Linked DNA regions of Homo sapiens: region 1 is linked to region 2. A link means that fine-mapping ties the variant in region 2 to the expression of a gene that starts in the linked region. Tissue or cell type: whole blood. Region 2 holds a variant in brackets; the other region holds the start of a gene. All regions are shown on one strand. Distances are between the middles of the regions.

The links. PIP is the estimated chance that this variant, and not a neighbour inherited with it, causes the effect. A credible set is the group of variants that fine-mapping cannot tell apart.
Region 1: CRKL starts here. The variant in region 2 is the best candidate, but not a certain one, in a credible set for the expression of CRKL in whole blood (TOPMed, PIP 0.81).

What each region holds. Positions count from the first base shown.
Region 1 is chr22:20,915,900-20,918,399 of GRCh38, forward strand. It overlaps CRKL (CRK like proto-oncogene, adaptor protein), which reads left to right and starts at 1,508. Exons shown (of 3, transcript NM_005207.4): 1 at 1,508-2,346. The coding sequence starts at 2,036. RefSeq lists a silencer at 1,425-1,874 and an enhancer at 2,165-2,224.
Region 2 is chr22:20,823,508-20,826,007 of GRCh38, forward strand. It overlaps PI4KA (phosphatidylinositol 4-kinase alpha), which reads right to left. Exons shown (of 55, transcript NM_058004.4): 4 at 819-907. Among named protein-coding and RNA genes, the nearest start is that of PI4KA, 34 kb to the right of the region's middle. The variant C/T (reference allele first, on the strand shown) is at 1,431.

The sequences.
Region 1 (2,500 bases), 92 kb after region 2:
ACAAAAAATTAGCCGGGCGTAGTGGCGGGCGCCTGTAGTCCCAGCTACTTGGGAGGCTGAGGCAGGAGAATGGCGTGAACCCGGGAGGCGGAGCTTGCAGTGAGCCGAGATCCCGCCACTGCACTCCAGCCTGGGCGACAGAGCGAGACTCCGTCTCAAAAAAAAAAAAAAAAAAAAAAAAATCAAAAAAATTAGCTGGGCATGGCAGCGCGAGCCTGTAGTCCCAACTACTCGGAAGGCTGAGGTGGGAGGATCCCTTGAGATGGGGAAATCAAGGCTGCAGTGAGCCATGATAGTTCCACTGCACTCCAGCCTGGGTGACAGAAGGAGAACCTGTCTCAAAAACAAACAAAATAAAACAAACAGGCTGGGCACGGTGGCTCACGCCTGTAATCCTAGCACTTTGGGAAGCTGAGGCAGGCAGATCACCTGAGGTCAGGAGTTTGAGACCAGCCTGGCCAACATGGTGAAACCCCGTTTCTACTAAAAATACAAAAATTAGCAGGGCATGGCGGCGGACAGCTGTAATCCCAGCTACTCGGGAGGCTGAGGCAGGAGAATCGCTTGAACCCGGGAGGCGGAGGTTGCAGTGAGCCGAGATCGCGCCCCTGCACTCCAACCTGGTGACAGAGCGAGACTCCGTCGAAAGAAGGAAAGGAAAGGGAAAGGGAAAGGAAAGGGAAAGGGAAAGGAAAGGAAGAGAGAGAGAGAGAGAAAGAAAAGAAAAGAAAAAAGAAAAGAAAGAAAGAAAGAAAGAAAGAAAGAAAGAAAGAAAGAAAGAAAGAAAACAAACAAAAACAAATAGGGATTAATAAATAGGCAGAAGCAGGCATAATCCGGGGCAGGGGAAGCCTCGGGGCCACGCCCGAGAGGCATTTGTATTTTACTTTCAGCAGTTCAGAGCCCATGATAGCCAGGTTACCCACTTGTGGACTTCCTTGACCACTTAATTGAGTCAATCTAACCCTCACCTTCTCTCTCCTCTCACTCCATTTAGCGGGTCACGTAGCCACTAGGGCTTCCTTAGCCTATCAGGCCACCTGGGGACTGAGTCATTCAGTCAGTCACCTATCTGGTGGTCACATCTGCCCCTGGGCTCATCCTTTTACTGGGCCACCTCGGCCCATCGGGACCTGTCAGTCCTTGACCTCCCTCAGGCCCCTAGGCTGGCCAGGTCGCCTCAGTGCCACGCCTCCCTGGCCCGCGATTCAGCCTGCACGTTACGCTTTGTTCCCAGAAGCAGGTTTTCGAAACGCGGTTCCCTCTCGGCTCCAGCTGTTTTCCTGCCAGCGCTGGGAGACCCGGCAGCCGCAGCGCCCCCAGCGGCGCGCAGCGGCCCAGGAAGAGAGTGCCTACCGCCGGCGCCTCTTCAGCCTCCTCCTGGAACGCGGGAGCGGGCGCGACCAGCGCCCACCCTGATCGTCGCGACGGTGCTCCTGATTGGCTGCGCTGTGTGACGTAACGGGAGGGCCCCGGCGGCCGCCGGGAGCCGGGGCCCAGCGCGTGCGCAGACGGAGCGCGCTGAGCGGAGGGGGAGGTGGCTGCCGCTTCTCCCGCGTCCGCCATTTTGTTGCTGTGGCTATTGGGAACAAGCTGGGCAAAAGCACCCCGGAGGCGCGACGCTCCTTCGAGTTCGGTGCCTCGTGTGACGGCGGGGGTCGGTGAAGACCCGTCGAGCTGCGGCGCCGGCGCGTTCCAGGCCGGGAGTCACTGGAGGCACCCCTGGGACGCCGAGCAGCCCGAGAACCCCGGGGTGGCCTCCGCTGCGGCTCGGGTTTGCCTGCCCCGACCCCCCGGCTCTGCCGTGCATTCCCGGGCGGCTCTCTCCGTGTGGCGGCCCCGGAGCAGGCGGGCGGCGTCGGAGGATGCTGCGGGCCCGGAGCCGAGAGGAAAGTGCTGGCCCAGCCCTCTGAGCGCTCCTCGAGGTGTGCGAGAGGCCCTTCCTCGGCCCCAAAGCCGTCTGCCGGGCTAAGGCGTGCAGAGCAGGCGAGGACAGCCGCCGCCCCTACCGCCGCAGAGTCCCCGGTCCAACACCATGTCCTCCGCCAGGTTCGACTCCTCGGACCGCTCCGCCTGGTATATGGGGCCGGTGTCTCGCCAGGAGGCGCAGACCCGGCTCCAGGGCCAGCGCCACGGTATGTTCCTCGTCCGCGATTCTTCCACCTGCCCTGGGGACTATGTGCTGTCGGTGTCCGAGAACTCGCGGGTCTCCCACTACATCATCAACTCGCTGCCCAACCGCCGTTTTAAGATCGGGGACCAGGAATTTGACCATTTGCCGGCCCTGCTGGAGTTTTACAAGATCCACTACCTGGACACCACCACCCTCATCGAGCCTGCGCCCAGGTACGCGAGAGCCCTCCCCGACCGCGGAGGAAGGTCGAGAACCGGGTCTGTCGAAGAGTGCTTGTATAGGGGGGTGGGGCGCGCTTGAACCCATATTCCCCGCATTCTGAACCAAATTATTTTCCAGAAGGCCTTCCTAACAGAAAGCTAGTGT
Region 2 (2,500 bases):
AAGAAAAAGTTGTATGATTACATTCTTTGTTTAAAGAACAGGAAAGTATGAAATACATGTTTGTAACATTTCTATCAAAATTAACAAAATCTAAAGAAAGTCTGTGCCCTTAAAGATAAAAGCTTCAGCTACCTAGAAGATTCTCTTCTAGCTGGGCACAGTGGCTCACACCTATAATCCCAGCACTCTGGGAGGTCGAGGCAGAAGGATCACTTGAGGCCCGGAGTTCAAGACCAGCCTGGGCAACATGGCGAAACCTTGTCTCTACAAAAAATACAAAACAAATTAGCTGGCATGATGGTGCACGCCTATAGTCTCAGCTACTTGGGAGTCTTAGGAGGGAGGCTGGCTTGAGGTGGACGGCAGAGGTTGCAGTGAGCCAAGATTGCACCACTGCACTCCAGCCTGGATGACAGAGCAAGACTGCCTCAAAAAAAGAAAAGAAAATGATCTTCTATGAATGACTTCAATCCCCAACAAAGAGCAAGAAAAATGAGCTGCCTCTGCCTTTTTCTGCCGCCTACCTTAAAGGACTTTCTGAAAAGCTGAAAGGGATAGTGCTGCTCATGTCTCTGCAGCCCCTGCCCTTCATTAGAAAAAAGAAAAAAAAAAAAAGAAAAGTTTAATAAGATAAGACTCGAGATCCTAAAGAGTAGTGAAAGACCTAAGCATGTCTTAGGTCTGCTGTCAACAGGATGAAATAGATAAATATCAACAAACAATTCAATCACATTTCACGTTTTTAAAATCTTTTCATCACTTTGGGACTCTATTCAATCTAATAGAAATGCATACCAAATCAACCAACACATGCTTACCTCATCCCTAAGTGAAGGATCCCTATAGGCCACATCAGACAGCAGAGTTACCAAGCAGAAGCTGAAGCTCTCTGCAACCGGGAGGGCACCTGGAAGATGTAAAAACATAAATCAGATAACCAGGAACCAGATACTGGGTCACACCTCTGGCCATCCAATTCAATATGTTCCCTCTCACCATGACCTGCCAAGGGACCAGTTTACAGCAGCTGCCCTCCTTGAGACGAGTCTCAAAAGAACAGCTATGGGCCCAATGAGTTTGCTGAGAAACACCCTTACCTTTCCTTTAAGTAAATGTTTTGGTTCAATAAACTTAAATGTTTCCTGAGCCAATAGCTAGTGTGAGATAACAAAGCCTCTCAACATGACAGATTCAATTTTTTATTCCCTAAGTAAATGTGATAAATCACACACACACACACACACACACACACACACACACACACACACACACAAAACACTCGGCTGGGCGAAGTGGCTCAAGTCTGTAATCCCAGCACTTTTGGGGGGCCAAGGCAGACGGATCACCTGAGGTCGAGTTCAAGACCAGCCTGGCCAACATGGTGAAACCCCGTCTCTACTAAAAATACAAAAATTAGCTGGGTGTGGTGG[C/T]GCACACCTGTAATCCCAGCCACTTGGGAGGCTGAGACAGGAGAATAGCTCGAAGCCAGGAAGTGGAGGTTCCAGTGAGCCGAGATCGCACCACTGTACTCCAGCCTGGGTGACAGAATGAGACGCCATCTCAAAAAAAAAAAAAAAAATCAATTTTGAATATTGAATGTTGAATCAAGGAAAAAAGAGTATCCACTATTTAATAGCTATATTCATAGTACATGACAGAAGACTTACATTTCTACTCCAGCACTTAAAATTTTAAAGTGCAGCTCTAGGCTGTTCTCAAACTTGAATGTGCCCATGCCCGGCCTAAAATTTGACCTTTTAGTAATGATGCTCTATTTAATTTGTAGTCCATCAAATTGCAGGACAGACTGGGTGCAGTGGCTCATGCCTATAGTCCTAGCACTTTAGGAGGCCAAAGCAGGCAGATCACTTGAGGCCAGGAGTTCAAGACCAGCCCAGCCAACATGGCAAAATACTATCTCTACCGAAAATACAAAAATTAGCCAGGCATGGTGATGCATGCCTGTAATCCCAGGTACTTGGGAGGCTGAGGCACGAGAATTGCTTGAACCCAGGAGGTGGAGGTTGCAGTGAACCGAGGTCAGGCCACTGCACTACAGCTTGGAGTGCAGACAGAGTGAGACTGTCTCAAAAAAACAAAAAACAAACAAAATCCTAACAAATTGCAGGTACATGCATAATTTGGGATCTGTCAGTTTTAGGCATGTTACCAGAAATGATGAAAACCCAAAGGTTAAGAGGAATACTGGCACAAACAGAATGTTTTTTAATTTTTATTTCAGGTTCAGGGGTACATACGCAGTTTTGTTATACAGGTAAACTGCATGTTACGGGGGTTTGGTGTACAGATTATTTCATCATCCCCGTAATAAGCATAGTACCCAGAAAGTAGTTTTCCCATCCTCACCTTCCTCCTATTCTCCACTCTTAAGTAGGCCCCAGTGTCTGCTGTTCCCTTCTGTGTTCATATGTACTCGAAGTTTAGCTCCCACTTACAAGTGAGAACATGCAGCGTTTGGTTTCCTGTTGCTGTGCTAATT